Homo sapiens: one gene and its partners. The protein of the gene in region 2 purifies or fractionates together with the protein of the main gene of each other region. This does not show direct contact. Each region holds a gene or a part of one and is shown on either strand. Other genes may lie near its edges.

Region 1 (4,306 bases), on a different chromosome or scaffold from region 2:
AGACTGTCCTCTTTTTCTCAGCACCCAGCATAGCAGATGAAGCTCGATGCTTGTTAAATACAATTTATATTTTTTTGGTGATTCTTTGAAACTTCTTACATTATTATATTGAATAATAACTGATTTGGGATTTCCTTACTTTGATCCTTTCTTTCTTCCATAGGTAATAGTGTTGTCTTTGTTCTTTTTTTTCCTAATGGAGCACATCATAAATGTTGAGGCTGAATTTGTATAGGTTTTTGGTGCTACAAAGAGGTATGAGACGTGGTCTCCATCTGAAGTGGAATTCTCAGCCTCTTAGGATGGCAGGATATGACTGTAGTAGAATTGCCGTATGAGATAGCTTTTGCTTAAATGTCCAAAGATTAGGAAACTGAATATGTAATATGATTAGAACTTAATATAATAACCAACTGAAACTTACAATCAATATCATATATATTTAATGATATGTATATTCTATCATGCGCTATCAGCACCTGTAGATTTAATACTAAAAATAGCAGCTATTCTTAAACAAGCCTGAAGGGCTTTGGCCTATAATAATGTATAATTTTGCTTAAGTAAACATTTGAGTCACACACCTTTGAGGCCAGTCTGTGGGAAGGAAATACAGAACTAGTGAGTGTGAGCTTAGAAGCCACATTTAGAAGCCAGTATTTGAACTCCTGGTGCAGTATTTTCCTGTTGGTCTGGGGCAGAGTTCCTCCTTCAGAATATTGAGAGGTCAGGCAGAAAGGTAGGTTGGTACCAGAGGTGGAAGTCCTTGAATATTTGGTTTAGAAGATATATGTGGCCAAGCTTTAGCATTTTCATTGATTGAGGTTTTACTTACCTCAGTCATTTAACATTTTCAGTGACTGAGGTTTTACTTATTTTATTTAAAAATTTTGGCTGGACGTGGTGGCTCACGCCTATAATCCCAGCACTTTGGGAGGCTGAGGTGGGCGGATCACGAGGTCAGGAGCTTGAGACCATCTGGCCAACATGTTGAAACCCCATCTCTATTAAAAATTCAAAAATTAGCCAGGCATGGTGGCATGCGCTTGTAGTCCCAGCTACTCAGGAGGCTGAGGCAGGAGAATCATTTGAACCTAGGAGGCAGAGAGGTTGCAGTGAGCCGAGATTGCACCCACTGCACTCCAGCCTGGGCGACAGAGCGACACTCCTAAAAAAAAATTTTTTTTTTGTAGAAATGAAGTCTCACTATGTTGCCCACACTGATCTTGAACTCCTGGCCTCAAGCGATCCTCCTGCCTTGGCCTCCCAAAGTGCTGGGATTACAGGCATGAGCCACTGCATCAGGCCTGATCGAGGTTTTAATTTACAGAGAATCATTGTTAGGGGTTCATTCTTTCTTTTTAAGTGGAATAGACCAGTATAATGAACTCCCACATATGCATCAACCAGCTCCAGTAACCACCACCATGTGGCTAATCCTACCCCACCTACTTTTACCTCTCCTGTATTATTTTGAAGCAAATCTCAGGTATTTTATTTTGTTTATAAATATTTCAATAGGTATCTCTAAAAGATAATGATTTTTTAGAAATCTCAAATGCTACTTAATGTCAAGGGGATTCTATTGTCTGCATATCACTTTGGGGAGGGGTTGTCTCTGAAGTGTCTGAAATTATATGCAAATTTTTGTCTGGTTATGCTTGCATGACTAGGTGTAATGCCCCTCCATAGATTCTCAGAGGATCCAAGAACAATTGGTGTTCATGTTTTCAGGATCATATATCAAATAATGGAGTAGGCAAGTATATCAAGGAAGAGATGTCAGCTCTTACAAATAAAAAGACAATAATTTATATCACATTTAATCTTTCACAGGGTTACATGATGAAAAAGGGCCACAGACGGAAAAACTGGACTGAAAGATGGTTTGTACTAAAACCCAACATAATTTCTTACTATGTGAGTGAGGATCTGAAGGATAAGAAAGGAGACATTCTCTTGGATGAAAATTGCTGTGTAGAGGTGAGTCTACTCTTACTTCTTTGCATGATTACCCCGTGCTGCCCCCTGATGCTGAAGTAGCTTCTCACCTTCTTCCACCTAGACTCTAGAACCTTAAAATAATCCCCAAATTTACATTTCCAAAATAATATAGGCATGCAGTTGCCATGGTTTCTGAACCAAAAATTAAACATAGCTGACAAAATTTTTTTCTAATGTGAATTTATTTTCAACCTTCTACTCGTGAATAAAGTATAAGGATTAAATCATTTATTGGAACATTTAAGGAATCATTTATTGAATAAAATGGAGTCATAAAAGAGATAATAAAGTAAAAAAAAGTTCAGTAAGACAATATTTGGAATAAAGAATATGCCAGAAAATCTGGGACATTTTGAGTGCAAGAAATAAAAGAAGATGTAAGCATTGTCTTTGAATACTTTGGGTGACTTTCAGGACACTTTATTCATAGGTACTAATTCTTTAAAGAAGTGAAATTCTCAAGAACATAAATTTTTGAGTTTTTAATTTTTATATGAACTGTCCCCGTGTCTGTATGTGTTGAAGAACATTTAAATACCTGAAATCTCACACATAAACTATAATGTATTTTAGTGAATAATAATGTCTTGAGATGTGTGATGCCCATGAAGGAGTCTGCTTAGATTTAACTAAACATGGAGATCTACAAGGTTACCAAAGGCCAGTTTACTCATAAACATATAGGACAGAAACCACGGGTTGCCAGCCACAACATTCCAAGTGCAAGAAGAGAAAGCCACATTAAGCAGATGTAGGAATCACCCTGGCTTAGGTGCTTCATATCCCATAGGAGTTAATACCTCTTGTAACATCATCACAGATGTACCTTCCAGGATTCCTGCAAGGGAGGTGCTCAGGATAAGAGCTGCTATACTCAGGAAATCCCAATGCATGGCATCCTATCAGGTGTTTATAGTTTTACCAGTCTAGATGTAGTATACCAACTGGGGTCATTTTTACCATAAGTAATGTGCTTAGGAAACAGCATTAGTAAATCAGTAATATGAATTTATAGGTATTTTTCATTGACATTAAGTTTCAGCTCATTTTTATAAATAATTCAAATTGAATTTCATTTAAATACTTAAAATTTTGAGGAACTAATTTTGCTTTCTGTTTTAGTCCTTGCCTGACAAAGATGGAAAGAAATGCCTTTTTCTCGTAAAATGTTTTGATAAGACTTTTGAAATCAGTGCTTCAGATAAGAAGAAGAAACAGGAGTGGATTCAAGGTAAGGTGATTTTTTATTATTTGCCATGATATAACTTGAAAGCTCTGACTTTCTTTTTTTTTTCTGAGACGGAGTCTTGCTCTGTTGCCCGGGCTGTAGTGCAGTGGTGCTATCTTGGCTTACTGCAACCTCCACCTCCTGGGTTCAAGCAATTATCCTGTCTCAGCCTCCAGAGTAGCTGGGACTATAGCCACCACGCCCAGCTAATGTTTTTGTAATTTTAGTAGAGACGGGGTTTCACCATGTTGGTCACGCTGGTCTCAATCTCCTGACCTTGTGATCCACCTGCCTTGGCCTCCCAAAGTGCTGGGATTACAGGCGTGAGCCACTACGCCTGGCCGAGAGCTCTGACTTTCTAGTTTTGAATCTCATGAAGGATGCTAAGGCGTTACTTCCTCATTGTAGTTATTTTCTGCATGTGATACAGTAGCTGAGAGAAAAACAAATTAAGATGCGCTCTCAAAGTTTTCATTAGTTTTATTTGCATAATGAACTTTGGGTAAATTATAAATGGGAGATTTACTTTTTAAATAGATTTTGGGGTTGCAAGTATAGTTCTGCTACAGTGATATATTGTGTAGTGATGAAATCTGGGCTTTTAGTGTAATCATCACTCGCATAGTTGCTGTTAGGTAATTTCTCATCCCTTGCCGGCCTCCTGCCTTCCCACATTTCTGAGTCTCCAATGTCTATTATTCCTTGCTGTATGTCCATGTGTACACATATTTTAGTTCCCACTTATAAATAAGAACATGTAGGCCGAGTGCGGTGGCTCATGCCTATAATCCCAGCACTTTGGGAGGCAGAGGCGGGTGGATCATGAAGTTGGGAGATCGAGACCATCCTGGCTAACACGGTGAAACCCCGTCTCTACTTAAAAAAAAAAAAAAAAAAAGAACATGTATTTTATGTTCTGTTTATGGGTTATTTCAAGAAATACTTCAAGATAATAGCCTCCAGTTCTATCCATATTGCTGCAAAAGACATTATTTCATTCTTTTTTTATGACTGAATAGTATTCCAAGGTATATGTGTGTATGCACACACTACAACTGTTGGTGGACACCTGGG
Region 2 (4,306 bases):
AAATGCCCAAGTTATGAACATTCTCCTTCTCTACCATTATCCTCCAGAATCTAATCTAACTCCCAGGTCCAAACTTAATTCACCCCAACTTTCTACCACATTTCCATCCAAGAACAAAGCAGTCCATTTCTGCTTTTCTTCTTCTGTTGGAGGCCCAGATACCCTCCCTATATAACAAACCTACCTCACTCTACCCCAAGCGTTGACCCCAAAAATTGCCACCATATTCACTATCTTGACATGTGTTTTGAAGCCCAAACCTGCATCCAAAGGAATACCATGAAAGACAAAAAAAATGTAGTTCCTGTATAATCAGGTTTACTGTAAGACTCTGGGAAATATACGAAGAGAATTCGAGTAAAAGTACAGATGAATTGAAATTCCTTCCCCAGAGATAGCGTCAAACAGTGCCTCCACTTGTTATTTTGGAAGCACTTACATTACTTGCATAAGTATCAGTTCTAACCAAGGAAAAGGCTTTTCACATCAGCCCTGAGAAATAAAAGACCTAATCACTAAATTTACAATGGGTATATTTTGTGCATACACCTTTTTACACAGTATGTTAAAATGGAAAACAATTATCCTTACTACAGAGATGGAAGGAAAGAAATTATGGACATCTAGAAGAAAAATATGTCTCATGTGTTTGTCTCATACCCTGTTAAATCCTCAGCGTTCAGAACAGTGCCTAGAGTAGTGCTTGGCACACAGCGGCCTTCAATTAATATTGGTTGAATAAATGGAGATAATTAATTAAGTCTTTTGTGTTTTTCTCTGACTCAGCATACTGAACTGCCACCTCCTCTATGCCCTACAACTAGCGCAATTGGGGAGTTTCAATGATTCAGTAATCATTTGGGAGATAAATGACAGAAGAGTCATTTATCACATTGCCTATGCATATATCAAAATATATGGAAAAATGTGTTTTATGTCCCATAGCAAATTCTGTTTATGTAGAAAACAGCAATGACCTAAAACAGCAAGAGATAAGTTAACATTTCCAATATGACATCTATGGGAAATTAATTCACTACAGAATTAGATTATGCTTAAGTCATTCTTGAAATCTATCAACAGATACCTTAAGCCATGCACACTAAAGGAGACACACTTGACTGCCAATGCTCATTCTTATCAATTCTGCATCACTCTCTACCTTTCCTCCATGGAGGACAGACTCCACTAAAGGAAAGTCAATTTTAACCTTTCTCTCTGCAACCCATTCTGGCCATATGACTTGTGGGAACAATGGATACTGCCAAACCTGCCATATTCTCTCAAGGACTAATAGTCCTCTATTCCATTCATTACTACCCCAAAACCTATTCAGATTTTTACTTGCTCTCTTCCTCATCTGCTAGTTGTGTACTTTTTTACTTCCTCATAAATATTTTATCTTAACTGTGATAGTATTGTATAGAATAAAGCAGGTTATTAACCCATTTGTTTTACTTGAACACTAATCTTCCTAATTATAGCTTATTGTAAATAAAAGTAAAGTTCCCAAATTATAAGATAAAAGCAGGAAATGGTTTTCCTAGTCATTCTCTCCTTATGGTCTTCAGACCCTATATATACTTCCTGAAGCTTACCTTCCTCAATACTTCACTTTGTCAAATAAGAACTTACATTTTTTTCAAAAATGACTCTTATTCCTACTTCTATCTTACATAAAATGATTAGCATATTATAATTACAAAATAACTAAGTAATTAAGAAATCTTAATAGAGAAAAATACACCAACATCTATTAAAATTACAGAAAATAATTCTGCCTAAATCTTGTGATGTTTTTTCCTCATAAGGATCATCTGGGTTCTTCTTACGCTCAGTGCTGGGAAGCACCTTATTTAAAAACAACTACAACAAAGCAACAATAAAACATAGTAAAGAAAAATAAATTACCTGGAGTATACATATCTCCTGTATTAGGGTTTGTTAAAAATGGCAGAAAGTCTTCCACATGGCTTTGCATATACTCAGCGGTCTGACTTCTCAAGGCAACCACAGTCAGAGCACAATCCTTTTCTTTCAGTTGATCTTCAATGGCTTTATACATACAGTGGCCATCAGATGGAATCTGTTTAATTTCTAACTGTCTAGCTGCCAATATTTGAGCAAGTTTCTCACTTTCCATATGTCTGGCTCCTGTTAAGTTTTCAATTTCAGCTTCAGCTATCCGTTCTTCTCGCTCCTTTTCCAATGCAGCTTTCTTTTCCTAAGAAAAGCAGAATGCATGAAAGTTAATTCATAATAATTTGGACTAATTCTCATTTATTAAGGGAAGGGAAATGTAAAGGTCTCAAAACTTTCCGGTGTTTATTCTCCCTTCTCGCACAAACACTATCACATTGATCATCTCAAGAATTTTCTACAAGGTGAGCTCCTTACTCTCTTACTCATCTGTGTGTTTCCAGCACCTTGCTCTATACTGGACATTAAGAAAGCCCTCTAATTTTTCTTTAAAGTCTACTTAAAGGCTACATGCCAAGTTTCTAAAAACCTTACTTACTGATTTCAAAGTATTCTCTTAAGACTGAGTTATCCTAGGCCTTAAAGCACATTATTATTATATTAAAGCCCAGGCTAATCCAGGCTTCTTATCAGTCCACCAGTAACGTGTTAATATGACACAGCCTTTAAAAGGGTACAGGCAGACACCCTTTTTATCAAGCTTTTTAAAATGTCTGTATACACATACATTTAATTAACAAATATTTTGTAAAAAAAAAATTAAAATATAAGAGAGAGACTCAAGCTCCCCATAACACCACTGCCATCCCAGTGCTTGCTCTAGAGGTTTGGTATGCATCCTTCTAGATTGTTTTTCCATTCATTTTAATAAATATGGTATACTCTTGAAAATATGTATAAATTCTTAATAAAAATGGTATCATATGTTACATTCTACAATTTGCTTTCCTTATGCAAATGTCTGATAAGCTCCTCCCATGGAAACATATGCAAGGATGGAGTGGGGTGACGGAAATGAGAGATTTGTGACATGAAGAATAGACAGGAGGTGTATAGGGAAGGTTGGGGAAGAAGAAAGGAAAAAAAATTCCTAACAGATGGACTAGTAATGATCAAAAGCCAGAAAGCACTATATGTTTCATAGCTAAAAACAGTTCCTAGAGCTACAGTGCCAGAGAAAACTGTCAAGAGATGAAATTGGAGGCAAAAAGCATAGGCATATAATTAATATACAGTAGGTCTATACTTAACATAGGACTAAAAAGAAACTACAATATACACAAAGTATTTATAGTGCTTTTTTCTGGATGACGGGATTCCAAAATAAGTTTTATTTTGGGGTGTGTGTATGTGTATGTGTGTGTATGTCTGTATGTTTTTCTGCATCTTTCTAATTCTCTATCATATATTTTGTTTGTACACTCAAGCGGAAACTGCTTTATAATTTAAGAATAAAAACTAAGTTATATAAATTTTGACATTAATAAGTTACAGTGAAGGATTTGGTAAGCCAAGAATAGGAAAAGGTAAAGACTTCCATAACACTAGCTCTGATTTCTCCTTGGAACAAAAGTGAATGGGAAGGCAAGTTTCAATTAAACTTATTGTCATGTACCTGTACTACTTGCCTGTTATGTGCCATGCTAGATGAACCTAAAGTGATTTCTAAGTTACCTGAATCAAAAGCAGTAATATCTCCCTAATAAAACATAGCCTATTTAAGGTTTGTATAAGTAATAGGAACAAATTTATTTCACTGTGTACCTAGAACTGTGGATCACAGAGGCATAATATCTTAAAACACAAGATGGCACTATTACTTTATAAAAGACTAAAAAAGTTTCAGAGGGGAAAGGAAGAATAAGCACCTTAGATATCATCTAATCCAAAACCCCTCATTTTCCTCTTCTGAGGAAACAGCACGCAGAAAGATTTCCAAAGGCCATACAGCTGGTAAGAGCAGAGCAGGGACCAAGGACAACACAGAGAGCTCCTTCTATCCAGGCACCTGAATCAGAATAAAAGTTGGAGCAGATGGGAGCTGGAGTTAATGATGTCATGTACTATTTACTGAAAGAGTGGCACTTTATCTTATCTGCAAAACTGTTTAAGCCTCTAAAATACTAATTCTAATCATTTCATTTTTTTCCCTTCATGCTTTGCTTCATTAGAACAAAGCAATTGAGTTTCCTTTTCAGGGCACTAGGTAAGAAATCCACTGAATTCTTTTTCCAGCAATATATAGTTTCCCAAGAGCACTAGGCACTTTGGTTTCTACAGCTATAGTAGTGGAGATAGAATGGCACTAATAAGTTCTAATAAAAAC
Region 3 (4,306 bases), on a different chromosome or scaffold from region 2:
ATTCTTTTGACTGCCAAATTCCATGGAATCTGTGAACCGCGGTTTGTTTCTGCACTCACTGGCTGGTCTGCGGGTTTTCCGGTTTTGAGCTACTGTGAATCATGCTGCTCTGGGCATTCACGCACGAGGCTGTGTGAGGACACAGATTCTCCTTCTCCTGGATAAATGCCTCGGAGTGGAATGACCCTGACGTTTAACATTTTCTTTTTTGAGGCAGGGTCTCACTCTGTCACCCAGGCTGGAGTGCAGTGCTATGATCACAGCTCACTGCAGCCTTGACTTCCTGGGCTCAAGTGATCCTCTCACCTCAGCCTCCTGAGTATCCGGGACTAGGGCGTGCACCACCATGCCTGGCTAATTTTTAAAATTATTTTTTAGCCAGGCGCAGTGGCTCATGTCTGTCATCCCAGCACTTTGGGAGGCCGAGGCGGGTGGATCACCTGAGGTCAGGAGTTCGAGACCAGCCTGACCAATAGGATGAAACGCCATCTCTCCTAAAAATACAAAACGTAGTCAGGTGCAGTGGCCGGAGCCTGTAATCCCAGCTACTAAGGAGGCTGAGACAGGAGAATCGCTTGAACCTGGGAGGCAGAGGTTGCAGTGAACCAAGATCACACCATCGCGCTCCAGCCTGGGAACAAGAGCAAAACTCCGTCTCAAAAAAAAAAAAAAAAATTATTTTTTAGCCAAAGCAGTGGCTCACACCTGTAATCCCAGTGCTTTGGGAGGCCAAGTTGGGAGGATCACCTGAACCCACAAGTTCAAGACCAGCCTGAGCAACACAGCAGACCCCATCTCTACTAAACAGAAAAAAATCAGCCGAGCATAGTGGTGCATGTCTATAGTCCCAGCTACTTGGGAGGCTAAGGTGGGAGGACTGTTTGAGCCCAGAAGCTGGAGGCTGCAGTGAGCTATGATCGAGCCACTGAACTCCAGTGTGGGTGACAGAGTGAGACCCTGTCTCTAAAAAAAAAAAAAAAAATTTAATTTTTAAAAAGTCTAAGAGTCCAAGGGGTCAATACTAGACACACATGGCTATTTAAATCTATATCCAAATTCAGCTGAATTCAACATTCAACTCCTCGGTCACACTGTCCACATCTGTAGTCCGTACTGGCACATGAGTGCCTAGTATTGGACAGCACACATCCAAACCATCCCGCTTACTACAGGATACTCTACTGCAGAGCACAAGACCACAGAAAAACTGTTAAACCTAATAAGGCTTCAGGAAGAAACAGTTCAAACCAGATAAAAGTAAACATGCCAGCTACTCGGGAGGCTGAGGCAGGAGAATCACTTGAACCCAGGAAGCGGAGCTTGCAGTGAGCTGACACTGTGCCACTGCACTCCAGCCTGGGCGACAGAGCGAGACTCCGTCTCAAAAAAAAAAAAAAAGAAAAGAAAAATCACCCAACTTTATGTCCTTAGAAAGACCAATCTCCTCAGTAAATTCCTTTATCACTTGACAAACTGATTCTCAAGATCATCAGGCACCGTTAGCCCAGGGCTGGCAAACTATGGCCCTTAGAGTGAATCTGGCCCACCACTTGTTTTTGTAAATTAAGTTTTTTTTTTTTCTGAGACGGAGTTTCACTCTTGTTGACCAGGCTGGCCTGCACTGGCACTACCTCAGCTCACTGCAACCTCCTCCTCCCAGATTCAAGCGATTCTCCTGCCTCAGCCTCCTACGTAGCTGGGATTACAGGTGCTCACCACCATGCCCAGCTAATTTTTTTATTTTTTATTTTTTTGAGACGGTCTCACTCTATCGCCCAGGCTGGAGTGCAGTGACGCGATCTCGGCTCGCTGCAACCTCTGCTGCCCAGGTTCAAGCAATTCTCCTGCCTCAGCCTCCCAAGCAGCTGGGATTACAGGCGCTCGCCACCACGCCCGGCTAATTTTTGTATATTTAGTAGAGATGGGGTTTCACCATCTTGGCCAGGCTGGTCTTGAACTCCTGACCTCATGATCCACCTGCCTCGGCCTCCCAAAGTGCTGGGATTACAGGCGTGAGCCACTGCGCCCAGCCACTTTTTGTATTTTTAGTAGAGACGGAGTATCACCATGTTGGCCAGGCTGGTCTTGAACTCCTGACCTGAGGTGATACTCCTGCCTCGGCCTCCGAAAGTGCCAGGATTACAGGTGTAATCCACTGCACCTGGCCAATAAAGTTTTATTAGAACACAGCTCTTCTTGCTCAGTTACATGTTGTTGATTTATGGCTTTTTGTGCTGCTACGGCAGAATTAAGTAGCTGCAACTGAGACAGTATGGCCTGCCAAAAATATTTACTATCTGACCCTTCACATGAATTTGCTGGCACCTGTGTCTTTTATCTGTTTTGGTTTTGTTTTACACACAGTCAAGGTCTCACTATGTTGCCCACACTGGTACCAAACTCTTGGCTTCAAAAGATCTTCCCGCCTTAGGCCAGGGACGGTAGCTCACACCTGTAATCCCAGTACTTTGGGAGGCCGGGGATAGCCTGAGGTCAGGAGTTTGAGACCAGCCCGGCCAAAATGGCGAAACCCCGTCTCTAAAAATACAAAAATTAGCCGGGTGTGGTGGTGCACACCTGTAATCCCAGCCACTCGGGAGGCTGAGGCAAGAGAACTGCCGGGAACCCAGGAGGCAGAGCTTTGCAGCGAGCCAAGATCATGCCACTGCACTTCAGCCTGGGCAACAGAGCGAGACTCTGTCTCAAAAAATAATAAAACAAAACACAGAATATAAGTTCCATAAGGAAGGAGATGTTTTTCTGTCATATGCACCTCCTGTAGCCAGGACTGTATTTCAGTGAGTATCTGTAGGGTGGACAGATGGGTGGATGTGGGTGACTGATTCTAGAAGAGTAATAAATGTGTCAGACCAGCTGAGAAAGTCTTTTTTTTTTTTTGAGACAGAATTTTACTCTTTTTGCCCAGGCTGGAGTGCAGCAGCACGATCTCAGCTCACTGCAACCTCCACCTCCCAGGTTCAAGCAATTCTCCTGCCTCAACCTCCCGAGTAGCTGGGATTACAGGCACCTGCCACCACGCCTGGCTAATTTTGTATTTTTAGTAGAGACAAGGTTTCACTATGTTTGCCAGGCTGCTCTCAAACTCCTGACCTCAGGTGATCCGCCTGCCTCAGCCTCCCAAAGTGCTGGGATTACAGGGGTGAGCCACTGCGCCCACTCTTTTTTTTTTTTTCTAGGTGGAGTCTCGCTGTGTTGCCCAAGCTGGAGCCCAGTCGTGCGATCTCAGATCACCACAACCTCTGCCACCCAGGTTTAAGCGGTTCTCCTGCCTCAGCCTCTCAAGCAGCAGGTGCAAGCCACCATGCCTGGGTACTTTTTGTATTTTTAATACAGACAGAGTTTCACTATGTTGGCCAAGTTGATCTCGAACTCCTGACCTCAGGTGATCTGCCCGCCTTGGCCTCCCAAAATGCTGGGATTACAGGCGTGAGCCACTGTGCCCAGCTTTTTTTTTTTTTTTTTTTAGGGACAGAGTCTCACTCTATCGCCCAGGATGGAGTGCAGTGGTAGGATCATGGCTCACTGCAGCGGCAACCTCCCAGGCTCAGGTGATCCTCCTACCCGAGCCTCCTGAGTAGCAGGGACCACAGGCACACACCACCATGTCCAAGTAATGAGGTCTCGCTATATTGGCCAGACTGGTCTCGAACTCCTGGGGTCAAGTGATCCTCCCACCTCAGCCTCCCAAAGTGCTGGGATTACAGATGTGAGCCACTGCACTCAGCCTGAAAAGTCTTCACAAAGAATAAAGTTGGGAAGAATTTGGTGAGCAGTTCTCAAAACATACCACAAAGCAGCAATCATCAAACAATGTGTTATGGGAACAAGGACTCACAAAGCAGTCAATGAAATGTGAGACCCCAGAACACACTGTTCTTTTTTTTTTTTTTCCAAGACAGAGTCTCGCTTTGTCACCCAGGCTGAAGTGCAGTGGCACAATCCTGGCTCACTGCAACCTCCGCCTCCCAGGTTCAAACGATTATCCTGCCTCAGCCTCCCCAGTAGCTGGGGTTACAGGCGCTCGCCACCACGCCCGGCTAATTTTTGTGGTTTTTCTTTTTTCTTCTTTTTTGAGGCGGAGTCTCAGTCTGTCACCCAGGTTGGAGTGTGGTGGCGTGATCTTGGCTCACTGCAACCTCCGCCTCCCGGGTTCAAGCAATTCTCCTGCCTCAGCCTCCCAAGTAGCTGGGATTACAGGTGCCCACCGCCACACCAGGCTAATTTTTTGTATTTTTAGTAGAGACGGGGTTTCACCATGTTGTCCAGGCTGGTCTCAAATTCCTGA
Region 4 (4,798 bases), on a different chromosome or scaffold from region 2:
CCTTCAAACCCAGGGAAAGAAAAGCACCTGCCAGGGTTGTTTTTCTTCTAGGATCTTCTATTGATGCTCTGTGAGGTCCCCCAGGAGCCATGAAGCTAGGGCTGGCTCCTAGGGCAATGGGACTACAGTGTCCTTGTCCTTTCTTATTCTTTCTGTTCTTTCTTTCTTTCTTTTTTTTTTTTTTTTTTTTTTTTTGAGACAGAGTCTCACTCTGTTGCCCAGGCTGGAGTGCAGTGGTGTGATCTTGGCTCACTGAAACCTCCGCCTCCTGGGTTCAAGTGATTCTCTTGCCTCAGCCTCCTGAGTAGCTAGGATTACAGGTGCCCGCCATCATGCCCAGCTAATTTTTGTATTTTTAGTAGAGACAGGGTTTCACCATGTTGGCCAGCTTGGTCTCGAACTCCTGACCTCAGGTGATCCTGCTGCATCGACCTCCCAAAGTACTGGGATTACAGGCGTGAGCCACCACGCTCAGCCTCTTTCTTGTTCTATATGTCCATGCTCTGCTCCACTTCTGCCCCTTCACTCTGCCCCCACACATCACTCCAGACTGGCCTTGTGGTCAGAGCCTGGAATGCCTGGGCTGCTGGGGGCCTGTGGACTGCACTGGGCCAGAACCCCTGCCGCCTTCAAGACTGGCCTGTAGCCAGCAGGTAGGTGACTTTTCCCAGGCCGGCCTATCCCACCTTTCCCCTCCACTCACTCACCTCCCTTGCCTGGGTCAATTAGAGAAAGCTTGTCGGCCAGGCATGGTGGCTCATGCCTGTAATCTCAGCACTTTGGGAGGCCGAGGCGGGCGGATCATCTGAGCTCAGGAGTTTGAGACCAGCCTGGCCAACATGGCAAAACCCCGTCTCTACTAAAAATACAAAAATTAACCGGATGTGGTGGTGTGCACCTGTAATCCCAGCTACTCGGGAGGCTGAGGCAGAAGAATCGCTTGAACCCAGGAGGGGGAGGTTACAGTGAGCGGAGATCGTGCTACTGCATTGCAGCCTGGGCGAGAGAGCGAGTCTCCATCTCATATAAAAAAAAGAAAAAGAAAGAAAGAAAGCTTGTCTGTTGGCCTGCCCTGCAGGGTGGAGTTCAGAGGGAAGGTCAGGAGCCTAGTGACAGCTCAAAAAAAAAAAAACCCAAATACCAATGTTGGCCCCTTTTGCCTTTCATTCATGTGTTTTCTATACACTAAACTCACATATTGGGTTTGCAGATCACTCCAAGCTTGGCTGGAGCTGTGGTGGTAAGGAGGGTAATAGAGAAGCTTCCCCACCCTCAACCCCACCCCTTCCTTCCTGGAGTTCCCAGCCCTGACTTTAGATCCCTCCCACACTGGACCTTCAAAACCCTCAGGGCAGAGAGCAGCCCTACACTCCCTACACCACACCCATACTCAGCCCCTGCAGGCAAGGAGAGAACAGGTCAGGTTCCCGAGAGCTCAGGTGAGTGACACGTTGGAATGGCCCAGGGCACCTTCACCCTGCTCAGCTTGTGGCTCCAACATTCTAGAAGCCGAGGCCTCTGCCATCCCTGCCCTTTCCCATGGATATTCCATTTCAATTAGACAACCCAGCCTGGCCGGAATCCCCCTGCGTTCCTTCTTTTCCTTTGTGTATTTTTGAGACAGGGTGTTGCTCCGTCACCCAGGCTGGAGTGTAGTGGGATCCTGGCCCACTGCAGCCTCAAATTCCTAGGCTGAGGCAATCCTGCCGCCTCAGCCTCCTGAGTAGCTGGGGTTACAAGAGCAAGCCACCACACCCAGCTAATTTTGAAAAATATTTTTTGTAGAGGAGAGGTCTTGCTTTGTTGTCCAGGTTGGTCTCAAACTCCAGGGCTCAAGGGATCCTTTCCCGTTGGCCTCCCAAGGCTCTGGGATTACAGGCGGGAGTCACCCTGCCTGGGCCCCTCCTTTTGATGAGTCATCAGTTTTCATTCCCGCACGAGGCTCTAGCCCCTGGTACCAGCTTAGTTGCTCAATGGGCTGTGTTTGTTCTGGAGCCCAGATGGACTGTGGCCAGGCAAGTGGATCACAGACCTGGCCGGCCTGGGAGGTTTCCACATGTGAGGGGCATGAGGGGGGCTCAAGGAGGGGAGCATCGGGGAGAGGAGCGCACTGGGTGGAGGCTGGGGGTCCCAGCAGGAAATGGTGAGACAAAGGGCGCTGGCTGGCAGGGAGACAGCACAGGCAGGCCCTAGAGCTTCCTCAGCACAGCTGGACTCTCCTGGAGACCTTCACACACCCTGATATCTGGGCCCCGCGCTACGAGGGTGCTTTCACTGGTCTGCACTATGCCCCAGGCCCTGGGATTTTGAACAGCTCTGCAGGTGACTGAAAGGTGCGGCCAGGCTGGGGAACGACCTGGTTTCAGCCCCAGCCCCGCCACTGACTGACTTTGTGAGTGCGGGCAAGTCACTCAGCCTCCCTAGGCCTCAGTGACTTCCCTGAAAGCAAAAACTCTGCAAAGGGGCAGCTGGGTGCTGGCTCACACCTGTAATCCCAGCACTTTGGGAGGCTGAGGTAGACAAATCACTTGAGGCCAGGAGTTCTAGACCAGCCTGGCCAACATGGTGAAACCCCATCTCTACTAAAGAAAAAAAAAAATTAGCTGAGCATGGTTGTACATGCTTGTAATCCCAGCTACTTGGGATGCCGAGGCGGGAGGATTGCTTGAACCCAAGAGGTGGAGTTTGCAGTGAGCTGAGATTGTGCCACACTGCACTCCAGCTTGGGTGAGAGTGAGACTCCATCTCAAAAAAAAAAAAAAAAAGAGAGAATCCCACTTTCTTGCTGTTGTGATGGTGGTAAGGGAACGGGCCTGGCTCTGGCCCCTGATGCAGGAACATGGAGCTGATCCAGGACACCTCCCGCCCGCCACTGGAGTACGTGAAGGGGGTCCCGCTCATCAAGTACTTTGCAGAGGCACTGGGGCCCCTGCAGAGCTTCCAAGCCCGACCTGATGACCTGCTCATCAACACCTACCCCAAGTCTGGTAAGTGAGGAGGGCCACCCACCCTCTCCCAGGCGGCAGTCCCCACCTTGGTCAGCAAGGTCGTGCCCTCAGCCTGCTCACCTCCTATCTCCCTCCCTCTCCAGGCACCACCTGGGTGAGCCAGATACTGGACATGATCTACCAGGGCGGCGACCTAGAGAAGTGTAACCGGGCTCCCATCTACGTACGGGTGCCCTTCCTTGAGGTCAATGATCCAGGGGAACCCTCAGGTGCATGGCTGGGTCCTGGGGGTAAGGGAAGTGGAGGAAGACAGGGCTGGGGCTTCAGCTCACCAGACCTTCCCTGACCCACTACTCAGGGCTGGAGACTCTGAAAGACACACCGCCCCCACGGCTCATCAAGTCACACCTGCCCCTGGCTCTGCTCCCTCAGACTCTGTTGGATCAGAAGGTCAAGGTGAGGCCGGGCTCAATGGTTCACACCTGTCATCCCAGTTTGAGACTGAGGAGGGAGGATCCCTTGAAGGCGAGAGATGGAGACCAGCCTGGGCAACATTGCTGTAGAGATGACATCCCATCTCTACAAAAATAAAATTAACAACCTGGTATGGTGGCATAGACTGTTCCCAGTTACTTAGGAGGCTCAGCGGGGAGGACTGTTTATGCAAATAGGAAGCTGCAATGAGCCCTGATGATCCTGCTGCTGCACTCCAGCCTGGGCAACACAGCAAAACCATCTCTACGAAAAAAAAGTTCCCACTGACTGGCAAGGAAAGCCAGGAAGGGGGGCTCAGGTGCCCTCTCAGCCATGTACCTGTTCTTCTGGAAGGGCCTCCTCGCTTCTGCCAGGCTCATCACATCTTTTTTTTTTTTGAGACAGAGTCTTGCTCTGTCACCCTGGCTGGAGTGCAGTGGCATGATCTCAGCTCACTGCAACCTCCGCCTCCCCAGTTCAAGTGATTCTCCTGCCTCAGCCTCCTGAGTAGCTGGGATTACAGGCGTGTGCTACCACACCCGGCTAATTTTTGTATTCTTTTTAGTAGAGACGGGGTTTCACCATGTTGGTCAAGTGGATCTCAAACTCTTGACCTTGTGATCCTCCTGCCTCGACCTCACAAAGTGCTGGAATTACAGGCGTGAGCCACCGCGCCTGGCCCTTTTTTTTTTTGAGACAGTTTCACTCTTGTTGCCGAGGCTAGAGCGCAATCGTGTGATCTCGGTTCACTGCAACCACCGCCTCCTGGGTTCAAGCAATTCTCCTGCTTCAGCCTCCCAAGGAGCTGGGATTACAGGTACCTGCCACCACGCCCGGCTAATTTTGTATTTTTAGTAGAGATGGGGTTTCACCATGTTGGTCAGGCTGGTCTTGAACTCCTGACCTCAGGTGATCTGGCCACCTTGGCCTCCCAAAGTGCCGGGATTAGAGGCATGAGCCACCACGCCCAGCCTTCATCACATCTTGAGAGAGGACACTGTCTGCCTCTTGCTCTGATGAGGGTCTGATGCAAGGATAGTGAGTCTCTACAGTGCACACTTAAGAAAGGCAGCATGTGGGTGCTCACAGGTCAGCGGAGGAGGGGGAGCTGGTGGGGACCAGGCATGCCTTGCTCCAGATCAGGATATGATGGCATTGGTGCAGATTATATTAGTATAGAATATGGTCTCAGGAACCAGGCAGGACTTTGGCTTCCGAGCAGGGTTCAGATCCCAGCTTGGCCCTACCTGTGCAGTGAGATCTCAAGCAAGTCAGCCTCTAAGCCTCAGGTTCCTCCTTTGCCAGTTCAACAGATGAGCTGGCCTGGGGTGGGCTGTGTGGTGATGGTGCTGGGGCTGGGTCCTCTGCCCCTGCAG
Region 5 (4,124 bases), on a different chromosome or scaffold from region 2:
TTTATATACATAAATATATATATATATATCCAATAAATATATGTGTACACATTGTAGATTGAAAATAATAATAACATTAAGTCCTACAAAAATTACATATATATAAAAGCCAGATATGACATTTGGGGACTTTGTAAAGTAAAATCCCAATGAGTTACTAATAACAAAACATTATATTGGTAACTGATTTAATGGTACAGGTAAAGAAACATAACAAGTCTTGCTTCATGGGGTAAATGTTACTTGTGCTGTCTGACAAAGTCAAATGCTTTACAGAAATTGTGTTTTTAAGTCCCCTTAACCCCTTTTCCAGACTGGCCAGTCCTAGAAGAACATCTAGTGGTACAGCTTCTATACTTAGTGACTATGGGTTCTAGCAGGGGATAGACCATCCTTTGTACAGGTTGTACAGATTGAAGTACCATCTGTGGCTTGACTACTTCAAAATCCAGTTCAAGACATGATTTCAGATTGATAAGACAAGTTATAGGATTGGAGTTGAATTGAAAATTTGCATTGAATTTACATTTTTTTTAATTCCTAAGGGGTAGTTTGGTTCATCAGGACTACTTCATTTCAATTAGGTATACTCAGCAGCACTAAGCAAAATCAAAGCCTATAAGGAAATCTATAGTATATATTAAAGGAATAAAAGAAAAACCAAAATTAAAGTACCATGTACTTTTAAAAACTAACTGAGAAGGTAACAACTGATTAAAAAAAAAAAAGCCAATGTATTGAGAAGTTTTCTTGACTGATGGTGATATTGCCATATAAGTGTATATGTTAGAAAAAGATGACCTCAAGTTTTTTGTTACATCTTTTCTGTAGACCTAGGTATTCTCATTCATTCATTCATTATTGTTGAGCACTTGCTATTTGAATACTGATTTTTTACAAATGTCTTTCCACTTCAAGAGCAAGTATAAAGTTAGGTAAAATATCTTTTAATGTGTCATTTTAATTGGTATTCTCAGTATGATGATGCCAAAAATTCATATTTGTTTCTAGAAGGAACCCTAGACTTATAGAATTCCTTATGATATAAAATATAAAGAATTTTTTTCTGAATAAATAGGGCAAATTTGAAATATGGGCCAAAAAATGTACAATAAGTGGTCAGTGGAGGATTCTAACATCAATAATTGAATTACAAAAATATTTTCACATTGCCCTTTTATCCCCAAGTAATGCTCTCCTTCTTAGAAGCCATGTGAATGTCTGAATAGATGCTTCTCTAAAACAAACCAGTTCGATAACAGACATTTTTTAACTTGTTTTATTTTAATATAGTCAACAGCTGCTCAGTATCAGGAAGGATTTACAATAAAGGAATCACAAGTTTAAATAATGATAAGCCCTCTTTTAGTTATTTTTACAAAGACATTAAAAAGACTAAAAGCACAATATTCTTACACATACATGCATATAGACACAAATACAAGAAAAATTGGGGAAATCTGAACAAAATCACTGGATTATGTTAATGTCAATATCCTAGTAGTAATAAGTACCGTAGTTTTGAAAAATGCTACCTTTGGAGGAAACTGGGTAAATGGTCCACAGAATGTCTCTGTATTATTTCCTGCAACTGCATTGGATCTAGAATTAATCTCAACATTAAAAGGTTAATTTTCGTCTAAAAGCACACTATTTCTTAATTGATCATTGCATTTCACATAAACTCCTCCTTTATTGTTTCTTTTCTCTTTTTATTTAGGCATGGAATTTCTTATCTCACTTGCCAGTGATAAATGTTGGCATAAGTGTTAAAGGCTCGTGGGATGACTTAGTTGAAGGACATAATGAACTCTCTGTCTCAACTCTGACTGCAGACAAACGAGATGACAACAAATGGATCAAATTGCATGCTGACCAAGAGTATGTGCTTCAAGTGAGCTTGCAGAGAGTCCACTTTGGGTTCCACAAGGTATAGTGTTTGGTTTCCATTCTCAAATATTTCACACCAAATACCAGCATGCACCACCACACATATCTGTTATGTGACTAATGTGCCCGTGTCATTCATGAATCCTGCTTTCTCAACTGGTCTTAAGCAGCGAGAGTTAGTCTTTTGAAATTCGTGAGTTCTCCTCATGTGTCATTTTTCAGCCCCAGAAAATCTACCTTACATAAGAATATATTGCCTAGAGTACTATTCTCAAAGTATGGTATACAGACTCTGGCCAGCAGAATTTCCTGGAGTGCCTTTTAAAGTGCAGATTCCTTGGCCCCACTCCAGACTGGCTGAATCAGAACCTCAAGGAGGCGGGAATCTCAAAATCTATACCTTCACTCAGTGCCCCACATGATTTTTAAGGGCCTTAAAGCTTGAGCAGTACTGGCCTAGAGGCACTTTGGTATACAGGAACCACATTGGGCTAGATGTAGATGAGACTGAAGCTTTACCACTTAGCTCTATGAATTTGAATAAGACATTAAGCTTTTCTGAGCCTCAGTTGCCACATTTGCCTGCGTCCTTCATTATAATGCATAGGAGAGCTTTGTCAATGTTCATACAGGCAAAAATGTACAGTATTTTTATTTTAGATTACTATGCTCTTTTCTGTTGCCTCTGATTATCTGGTCCTCTAAGAATATTAGTACACAGCAGGTGGGCAGATTGGTTTTTAGTGCCATAATAATTAAAATAAGAAAGAATTAGTCTTCTTTTTGGTCCAGTGGATTCAGGGCTTTCCCATATCTAGAATAAGCCCTCAGGGGTGAAGCTGTAGTTCATAAGTATTGTCCCTTCTGTTCTCACACACAAAATGATCAGTAACTTTCTATTCTTAAGATGTTCTTTCAGTATTGTACCTTCAAGTCTCACCTCATTTGATTTCTAATTCTAAAAAAGTCTGTCAGTGTAAGTATTAACTGATTGGCCTCTGGCATTTCAGAGGCTTTAGTATGAGCTTTTTTTTTTGATACGAAGTCTCACTGTGTCGCCCAGACTTGGCTCACTGCAACCTCCACCTCCTGGGTTCAAGCATTTCTCCTGCTTCAGCCTCCCAAATAGCTGGGTTTTACAGGCATGTGCCACTACACTCAACTAATTTTTTGTATTTTTAGTAGAGATAGGGTTTCACCATGTTGACCAGCTCATCTTGAACTCCTGACCTCAAATGATCCACCTGCCTCTGCCTCCCAAAGTTCTGGGATTACCAGCATGAGCCACCACACCTGACCTTAATATGAGGTTTCATTTGTTTGTTTGTTTGAGATGGAATTTCACTTATGTTATCCAGGCTGGAGTACAAGGGTGCAACATCAGCTCCCTGCAACCTCCGCCTCCCGGGTTTAAGCAATTCTCCTTCCTCAGCATCCCGAGTAACTGGGATTACAGGTGCCTGCCACCATACCCAGCTAATTTTTTGTATTATGTTGGCCAGGCTGGTCTCAAACTCCTGACCTCAGGTGATCCACCTGCCTTGGCCTCCCAAAGTGTTGGGATTACAGGCGTGACCCACTGCACCTGGCAATATGAGCATTTTTTAGATGACTTAATGTATTCCAACTTATAAAAAAAAGTAATAATTACAAACTAATAATAGTAATAATAAAAATAGCAACAATCATAAAGATAAAATCATGGGGGAAAACTATGATTTTTTTACCTTAATATTCTACTTAAAGCTTAGATTTAATCATGCCAGAAAATCTCTTAATTTTTGTTTCTGAATGCTGTAAAAATATATTACTCTCTGACTCCCTTTTGAAATACTGTAAGTGAAACATCTCCCTCTAGAATACTGAGTGAAGTCTGAGAATGTATCATTATTACTATATTTTATGCCATAAAGTCATTGTCTTAAAGAATCATTAGAATAATCTTGCATTTTATAAAAATTGATCTAAAATAAAGACCTCAAGTGCGATCATTATATTTATATCTAATTTTGGATTGTGGTGATTAATATATTTTACAAATTGCTTGACTTAAAATTGCCCATTCCTCAGAGAAGGGACTTTTTAATGTTACCATATTAGAATATGTGCTTTTTTATGTGAGTTTTATTCTTGGATGAGGGGGAAAGTATGTGTTTGATATAGTACTCATCATCTTGGGGTCCAGAGTCTAGTCTTGATTGGCTTTGTGTTTTTGTTTGTTTGTTTGTTTTCTT
Region 6 (4,306 bases), on a different chromosome or scaffold from region 2:
AGTCAAGAGACTGAGAATCAAGAAAAGTCACTACCAGTAAGGTCTAGCTTCAAAGGAGTGGTGTGTATCAAAACCAATCTGAAGTGGACACAGTTCAATCTGAACATATTTGAAGCACCTATTCTGGATAAAATATTATCCTACCTAACACAAGGGCTGTAAAGATGACTGAGAAAAGTCAAGCTATTTTCAAGTATTAACTAAATTCAAAAATGAGATTTTTCCATTTTAAGCCGATCAATTCCCCTCCTTATATTTCTATAGGTACAGCAGCAACAGTCGTATACTCTTGCTTTTATTTATGGTGCCTCCTGAGCATTCTCTCCCTACCACCACTACCTCAGATGGTTTTGATACTATCTATGCAAATCCTATCCTCACAGCCCAGTTCAACTCTACAATACCCTTAAAAGCTTTGTACAATTATTTTCCCTTCCACAGAGCTGCCCCCATCTCTAGGAATTAAATAACTTTCTATAATTGTAAACTATTTGGTATTTGCTTACATCCCTTCCCAATTAGATGTCCAAACACCTTGGGTTGAATTCTTTTTATCACTCCCACAAATAACAAGTAGGTGCTCAAAGTAACATAGCCCATAAGTCATATGCTATTAAAAAAAAAAAAAGTCAGTTACCTAAATCACCTGTAACCCTGTAAGATCCATTTGCAAAAATCCAGAAGAAAATTCCTCTGGCACTTCTAATCAAAATACCACCTTTATTTACTCTTCCTGCAATGAACACACCTCCTGTGTCAGGGGTCTCTATGTATACATCACACTTTATAGTCAGATTGGTCCTGCAAAATAAAACGGTTGATTAGTACTCTTTAAAATATGCCCTTTGTAACATAGTACAGATATGTCATTTCACAGCACATGCTTCCAAACTTCTAATTGAGGTGAGAATGTGATTTGCTAAGTCTAAGCCTGTAGCAGAGATGGGCTTCAAGAATCTTTATTGACAACAGTTTTAAATGTTACATGACTTAAGTCATTTCATTGCCTCTTTAAATGATTACTGGACAATAATAGTTATGATTTTTAAGTTTCCTGAGAAAATTTTTTTTCTACAATAAAACAACTTCTCATCTTAAGAATACAATATTTTAAAATGCTACTATTGTCTATGAACACATTAAAAAGTAAAAAGTTCCACACAATTCTGAGGGAAAATGTTTATTCAAACTTCCATCAACAAAGAGAGGCAATGAAGGCAATGCTAGGAGCCTTTGAGAGAACACAAGCTATTCCGGGGCCAACTTTTACATTTAAATCTAACAAAACTTTAAAACTCCAGGAGAAAAGATCTAAAATTATTTTTCTGCAAAGACCACAGAGTTGACTCTCTAGGAGGGCTTCTCACACCTGAACAGCACTGAAATCACCTGGAGGGCTTCTTAAACTCAGTTCACTGGCCCTACCCCACAGCGTGATTCAGTACATCTGGGGCAGCCCCTTGAATGTGCATGTCTAACAAGTTCCCAGGTGATGCTGATGCTGCTCGTCCAGGAATGCCACTTGGAGGACCATTTTCCCCTATGAAGTATCTGTCTATAAGGAAGCAATAAAATCCTGGTTCTAGGCTCACTGATCCACAGCAGTCTATCAAAGATGGGAAAAGATTCAGCTGTCCAGGGACTACCAGAGCTTTTACAGTGAGCTCTCCTCCAGGTTTCCTCTTACAAATGCTACCAGGTACAACACTTTCCTTCTGGAATGCTACAACCACCCCAAACCAACATGATCTCTGAAAATATTTCACTTCCTACTCAGTATCTAACTGCAAGTGGGAAGAAAAAGAAAGCCTGCACATAACCAAGTCATAAATCAAGCAATATATCTCACATAAAACTGGAAACACCAAGAAATCCATTCTGGAAATGGGCTGGGGGGAATGAGATCTAGAATTATGTGGCTTTTACATTTCTGTGTCTTATCAGTGAATTTTGCACAGTGAAATTTTACTACATAAAGGAAAATATTACAGAAGTACCTACATCAGCTACACAGGGAGGACAATCCACACTTAATTATCTAAGCAGAGCTGGACTACTTTACAGGAAGATAAATGCTAAGTAACTCAAGCCCAGTCTCTCTTGTATGTCCTCTGACATCAGAGGGAGTTTTCTCTCCATAGATTATCACCAGCATGAAACCACTGGCAATCAACACTGGTACTTACATCCCTTACCTCCTTTCTGGTTCATCAGAAGTTTGAAAGTGCTACAAATACCATCAGCACCATAAAATTATTCTATTTAGAGTTGGAATGAGAGAAGATCAAACTTTCCTTTTCTATATACCACATTCCAGAATAAGTGATTCTTGCATCAGAACTTGCCAGGCAATTTCACAGATAATGAATGAAATGGAATAAAAGTGTGGTTTATTCTTCCACAGCCACAATCTCTCAGTAATGCTGAAAGAACAAAAACTAGCCAATACATAAGGCAAATTTGATCCAAGAGAGTTCATCTGTGTGCAGGGAAAGGTAATTTTGTGATTGTCTTTAAAGGATTCCAACCAATGCTCACTATCAAGATAGAAGTAGCCAGTTATAGTACAATCTATCCCATATAATCAAATTACTGTGCTGGTAAATGACTAAATCTAGGTATAAGAGAGGAAGTTCTACTCAAAACACAAGTCTAAAAACTGTGAGTAGTGTGCACTCATTGAGAGCAGATTTACTAAAATAGCACTACAGATAAACTAAACAAATTTCTCATTTCCTACCTTTAGGAAGAAGATGATTAAAATGAGGCTGTGAGATGTACTCCAAAGAGAATGGGCTACTCAGTCACACAGACCCGGCTTCTAGCCCTTGTTCTGCCACTTACAAGTGAAATATTGGGTAAATCTTATTCCAAAGATGCAGTTTCTCAGTCTGCAAGGTGGGGACGATGATATCTCCACCATAAAGTGGTTGTGTGGGAAATCCATCAAAGTGCCTACTATTACCCAATTTTTATTCCCTCCTTTTCCCACAATAAGTGGGCACAGCAGCCAGACAACAGAAATGAACAAGGGATTTGTGTGGATCTCTGAGCAGATCTGGCTGCCTCAAATAGAGGGTGGAATACTGGAAAATAACACATAATAGATGAGACCAAATTATAAAGGGTCTTGGAAATCAAGCCTAGAAGTGGAAAACACAGGTAGCAGGACAGAGTCACTGCATCTTCCTGAGCAGGGGAATAACATGATGAAAACAGGGCTTCAGAAAGATGAAGGCAGGCCTTTCTTGACACGCAAAATTGCAACTTCCCGGTTCCTTTCCTTTCAGAATATGTCACTCTCTTCCCTTCTACACCCTTCCCCATCCCTCGTCCCCACCTCCTTACCCACTGCAATAGATCCTAGTAAAAACTGAGTATTGCTATTTAAATTGTGAAGATGTATATGAAGATTCAAATATATGAAGATCTGGGGGAGTAAATCTTTGGATGGTGCTATATCTCACTTCTATACTACAATTAAGGGGCTTCTCAATCTTTTTGGAGTCCCAGCCAGAAATAAGATTGAGTTTGAGTTTAGAAAGAGCCCTCTATGGTATTCAAGTGCATGGGGTATAGGGGATGTCACAGAAAAAAAAGTTTCCTATACGGCGACTTCAAAACTGGAGATCAAAACAATGGGACCCAGGCCTTGGACACTTAAACCCAGCCACTGGACTTAAAATAAGACCATCAGTCACAAATAAGGATGCCAAGAACTCCACTACCATAACTGGAAAATCTAGGTAAAGTTTCCACCTCAGAGACAATGGGACAAGCAGAAATTCTGCGTAAAAACACAAGCCACAAATGTCATCCTAAATTAGGAAGGAATTCTTCACTGCACCTCAATAACTCTTCATAGTGTTATAAGGGTTCCAGGGGCTCTGGATAACTAAAAGTTTCTTAAGACTTATGTCAGAGCTTGGGACTAGAATCAGGATTTCTAACTGGGAGTAAGGCACTTCAGGAGGGATAAACACTTTCTGCACACTCCATAGACAGGCAATTCAAGGCTCTTTTCAGAATTCTTTTCTCTTCCCTCTCCAGTTTCCAAGCTTCGGATATGGCTTTTTGGTGGCTTGGTATTACTAGTACTAGCTCTAAACCTGGAATGTGTATGTGTTTCTTTTCCCACAGTGGAATCATACTAGTTATAGGAAAAAATGAAAAAGAAACACATGACAGGTGGAATAAGTCAGCACATAGAAATTCTGTAACTAAAGAGGAAGGGAAAGTTTTAGTTTGGCATTATATTTTATGTGAATAATATAACTTGTCTCTTTACCAGATGACTAAATAAAAA
Region 7 (4,201 bases), on a different chromosome or scaffold from region 2:
ATGGGAGCAACACAGCGGACATATGATCACCTCTCCACAATCACCCAAAGACAGTTTTTTTTTGTTTGTTTTTGAGACAGAGTCTCATTCTGTTGCCCGGGGCTAGAGTGTGCAGTGGCACCATCCCAGCTCACTACAACCTCCACCTCCCGGGTTCAAGCGATTCTCCTGTCAGCCTCCTGAGTAGCCGGGATTACAAGCCCGTGACACCACACCCACCCAGCTAATTTTTGTATTTTTAGTAGAGACGGGGTTTCACCATGTTGGTCAGGCTGGTCTCGAACTCTTGACCTCGTGATCCGCCCACCTTGGCCTCCCAAAGTGCTGGGATTACAGGCGTGAGTCACCGCACCTGGCAGAGCACAACCTTTTTAACAGAGCTAAGGCAGGCCAACGTCAGGGTGACCTCTTGGCAAGATAAAAACTATGAGTAGTAAACGGCCGATTCCAGCTACTCAGGAGACTGAGGCACAAGAATCGCTTGAACCCAGGAAGCAGAGGTTACAATGAGCCGAGATCACGCCACCACACTCCAGCCTGCGCGACCGTGAGACTCCATCTCAAAAAAAAAGAAACGAACGGCTGGTTCCTGTTTACACCAGGCACATTCCTGTAGTGTTGCTCAAGGTCAGGAGGGATTTGTTTCTCCATCAAAGGAGGAGGTGCCCAGAAGGCACTCACTCAAATCCAGAACACTGCCTCTTGGGCTTTCCACGGCCTCTCCCATTATGTATCTCAAGGTTGAATCCAGGAAAGAAAGGCAGGACAAGTTCACGTCCTGAGGGAAGTGGCCCAAGTAGGTCCTTGTAGCACATACTTGTCCAACTATTGACCTGGCCAATGCTTGCGGATCAGGGTTCAGAGCCAGGGAAACTGCCTGAAGTGCCTGCCTCACCTCTGCCCAATGGGCAGCTGTGGACACCATGGCCACTTCACCAGCATCCACTCTTCTTGACTGAAGGGAATCACCAGCCTTCCCATGACAGGGGCGGGTGCAGCTATGGGCAGATGACTCATTGCCCAGCAATGGAGGCTTCTGGAAGTTTCCTTGAGACACAAAAAGGCTTTTCTTCCTCTGGAATGTTCTAGGGTCTTGATATGCTGCCTGGAACTGTTACTGCCATCTTTGTACTAGCCTTGATGAAGCCAACACTGGAGATGATGGAGAGAATGCTTCCTTGGCGAGCTGTTGAACCAGGCCCTAATCAGGCCTTCCTGCCACGTGAGACTGAACTTTCTGGCCATCGAGGCCTGCCTGGGCTGGGATGTCTGTAGGAGGCATGTTCAGGCCAAACGATCGTGAAAATGTCCCAGTCAGAACCTGTATTTTGGGATGCAAAAAGCTAGGTGAGTGGAAAGAAGGTGGTCACAGATGGTCACATGCGACTTGGGCCACTGGACCTGGAGCTCTTTGAGGCTTGCTGTAGAGTCCAGGCTTGGAAACGCTGTCCCCACAGCCGATGAGGCAACTTCCCGTGTCATCTCCACACGTTCATCTCCTCCTGGCATTCAATATCCACCTACAGAAGTCACCTGGGATTCTCTTCCTTGTGATAAAAAAGAATCTCATCAGACACATCCCTGGGGCTGGGCACAGTGGCTCACACCTGTGATCCCAGCTCTTGGGGGCTGAGGCAGGAGCATGAGTTGAGTCCAGGAGTTTGGGACTAGCCTGGACAATATAGTGAGACCCCATCTCTACAAAAAATTTTAAACACTAGCTGGTTGTTGTGGTGCACACCCACAGTCCCAGCTACTTGGGAGGCTGAGGTGGGAGGATCACTTAAGCTGGATAGGTAGTGGTTGCAACAAGCCGTGATATGCCACTACACTCCAGCCTGGGTGACAGAGTGAGAGCCTATCTCAAAACACACACACACGTCCCTGGGATCTGCCATTGATTCATTTGCGGGACTAACCACTCTTCCTAAAATGCCTTGTTCAGAATCCAGTCAAAGCACAAAAATCCTACCTCAGCACTTAGGGCCGAAGGGACACCAGTGGAAAAGGCAGGACTGGTTTAGAGGCACATTTCCCAGCAGCAGCAGCTCAGTCACATGTGTTTGGTAACAACTCAGACACCTCTCTGCCTACAGCTGCTCTATGACAGGGGAAAGGAAAAGGAAGGAAAAGGAGTTTGCGATTCTCCGTTCCTCATTCACTCCACTTTTTATCAGAGATGCAGACTTGTCATAAAACTTTTTCCTCCATCTAAAGACATTTCAATCCCCAACGAGGATTCTGGTGGAAATTCCCTAAAGGGGACATTCAGAGTGGCGAATAGTGAACTTAGGGCTTCGGGTACAAAAGTACAACACCCTGCACTTAGTGGCTGGGTGACCCCAGGCAATTTTATTACTTTATCCCTGAACCTCAGTTGCCTCATCTATAAGATGGGGCTAATAATAGCACCCATTTCATAATTATGAAGATTAAATACATTAAGGAAAACACTAGTATGTCCCTAGTACCTGCTAAACACTCAACAAAAGTTAACTGTACATACTGATGTCTCAAACAGGGACGGAATGTTTAACACAGAAAACAGGAGGTTTTAGCACTCACTCGTTCTCCTGGCTCCCGAAATATGAGCTGCCCTGCCCCAGTTCATCCAAGCCCATCAATATAGTTGTCCTCGTCCTTAATCTCCACAGGTGTTCAATGTGAGCCAACTGTCAGATGGCTTTCATTTGCACAACTGAATAAACCATTTATGCCTAGTGTTCCATTACTGGAACGCTAAGCTTATGGGAGTTATTTATATCTTACTGCTCGAGGTCCTCACCAAGATCTGATTTTTTCACAAAAAAAATTTGTAATCTCCAGCATAAATGGAATAATCAAAGCAATTGTGGCAGTTTTGGGGGGACAAAACTCTAGAGTTTAATCTTCCAGCTTGACTGACTTGGAAGCGTTCCTGTCAATGTAAAAGATCTTGTTGGGGGCGGTGGAGAAGCCGAGGCCGGCTCCCCGGCTGTACTTCCAGCTCATGGCCCGGTCGTAGTCCCGCTGCAGATTCTGCTGCAGGCTGTCAGCCGCCTTCTTGCCGAGGGCCATGTTGGGCCTTGCAATCGTGCTGGCGGGGCGGCTGAACGAAGGGGACAGGTTTTTGAAGCCACCCATAAGTCTGAGAAATTTCAGTTTTTGGTCCTCGTTCTCAAAACCAGCAGTATCCCACTGGCCAAACTGGGTTCCCTGTGAGGAGAGGAAAAAGGTGGCTATTTTCCTTGAGTTCAAAGCCCTTTCCTTCCCTTGACCCCCACCCTCATCAGGGAGGGCCCAGCAGATTAGATGGCTGCTGTGTACCAGGCACAGTGCTAATAAGCTCAACAACGGATTATTCCGTTAATCCTAAAGACAGCCCTATGAGAAACACTGTTGTTATTCCCATTGCACAGAGGAGAAAATAGAGGTCTGCAGCTTAGCTGGAGACAGAAACCTAACTAGTGACCCCCAGAATTCCAGCCCAGGTCCAGCCAACACCACTGCCCACCTCTGCACAGAGCTGCCTTTCTGCCTTCCTCCTCCTTTCCTAACTCATGGCACACGGCACAGTGTGCCTCACTTCACAACAGCGCACTCCCCCCACCACCCTACACTAAGCATTTCCCCCCACCTCCCTACACAGTGCACCTCCCCTCCCCCACCTCCCTACACAGCACACTCCCCCACCACTCTACAGAGCACACTCCCCCCACGACCCTACACAGAGCACTCCCCCCACCTCCCTACACGGCGCACATGGCGCACCTCCTCCCACCACGCTACACAGCACACTCTCCCCCTACCATCCTACAAAGCGCACCTCCCCTAACCACGCTACACAGTGCACTCCCCCCACCACCCTACACATCGCACTCCCCCCACCTCCCTACACAGCACACTCCCCCACCTCCCTACATAGCACTTCCCCCACTCCCTATACAGCGCACCTCCCCCCACCTCCCTACACAGCGCACCTCACCCCACCATGCATCTCACAAGACAGCACACCTCCCCCACCTCCCCACAGGGCGCACCTCCCCTGCAACACAGGGCACCCCACAGCCCAGCAGCCGGGCGCACTCACCCAGCAGCCTAACGTTTGGGTGAATTGGAGGGTGGGAGAGGGCGAGTGGGAATCTGAAGTGTGCTTCTCAGAAGCACTGTTTTATGGCGGGAACGGGTGCGGGCCCACAGGGGTAAAAGGTCACACAGCCAA

Evidence for each region.
Region 1: the proteins of OTUD6B (region 2) and SWAP70 fractionate together in Homo sapiens (co-fractionation; one large-scale study listed by BioGRID). This does not show direct contact.
Region 3: the proteins of OTUD6B (region 2) and BTBD2 purify together in Homo sapiens (affinity purification with mass spectrometry; one large-scale study listed by BioGRID and IntAct). This does not show direct contact.
Region 4: the proteins of OTUD6B (region 2) and SULT1A4 purify together in Homo sapiens (co-immunoprecipitation; one large-scale study listed by IntAct). This does not show direct contact.
Region 5: the proteins of OTUD6B (region 2) and ASCC3 purify together in Homo sapiens (affinity purification with mass spectrometry; one large-scale study listed by BioGRID and IntAct). This does not show direct contact.
Region 6: the proteins of OTUD6B (region 2) and GALC purify together in Homo sapiens (affinity purification with mass spectrometry; 3 studies listed by BioGRID and IntAct, with this or other methods). This does not show direct contact.
Region 7: the proteins of OTUD6B (region 2) and KNOP1 purify together in Homo sapiens (affinity purification with mass spectrometry, with the first as the bait; one large-scale study listed by BioGRID). This does not show direct contact.

Annotation. Positions count from the first base shown.
Region 1 is NC_000011.10:9,726,217-9,730,522, forward strand, and holds part of SWAP70 (switch-associated protein 70), read left to right. Parts: intron 1-1,836; coding exon 1,837-1,983; intron 1,984-3,126; coding exon 3,127-3,235; intron 3,236-4,306.
Region 2 is NC_000008.11:91,076,274-91,080,579, reverse strand, and holds part of OTUD6B (deubiquitinase OTUD6B), read right to left. Parts: intron 3,989-4,306; coding exon of another isoform or gene 3,849-3,988; exon of another isoform or gene 3,848-3,848; intron 2,225-3,847; coding exon 1,912-2,224; intron 1-1,911.
Region 3 is NC_000019.10:2,005,124-2,009,429, forward strand, and holds part of BTBD2 (BTB/POZ domain-containing protein 2), read right to left. Parts: intron 1-4,306.
Region 4 is NC_000016.10:29,458,547-29,463,344, forward strand, and holds the start of SULT1A4 (sulfotransferase 1A4), read left to right. Parts: upstream 1-1,366; 5' UTR 1,367-1,439; intron 1,440-2,835; 5' UTR 2,836-2,839; coding exon 2,840-2,987; intron 2,988-3,091; coding exon 3,092-3,217; intron 3,218-3,306; coding exon 3,307-3,404; intron 3,405-4,798. UniProt on the Homo sapiens protein: Sulfotransferase that utilizes 3'-phospho-5'-adenylyl sulfate (PAPS) as sulfonate donor to catalyze the sulfate conjugation of phenolic monoamines (neurotransmitters such as dopamine, (R)-adrenaline/epinephrine, (R)-noradrenaline/norepinephrine and serotonin) and phenolic and catechol drugs.
Region 5 is NC_000006.12:100,510,515-100,514,638, reverse strand, and holds part of ASCC3 (activating signal cointegrator 1 complex subunit 3), read left to right. Parts: intron 1-1,720; coding exon 1,721-1,930; intron 1,931-4,124. UniProt on the Homo sapiens protein: ATPase involved both in DNA repair and rescue of stalled ribosomes. 3'-5' DNA helicase involved in repair of alkylated DNA: promotes DNA unwinding to generate single-stranded substrate needed for ALKBH3, enabling ALKBH3 to process alkylated N3-methylcytosine (3mC) within double-stranded regions.
Region 6 is NC_000014.9:87,940,758-87,945,063, forward strand, and holds part of GALC (galactocerebrosidase isoform a precursor), read right to left. Parts: intron 802-4,306; coding exon 638-801; intron 1-637. UniProt on the Homo sapiens protein: Hydrolyzes the galactose ester bonds of glycolipids such as galactosylceramide and galactosylsphingosine.
Region 7 is NC_000016.10:19,704,027-19,708,227, forward strand, and holds part of KNOP1 (lysine-rich nucleolar protein 1), read right to left. Parts: intron 3,196-4,201; coding exon 2,884-3,195; 3' UTR 1-2,883.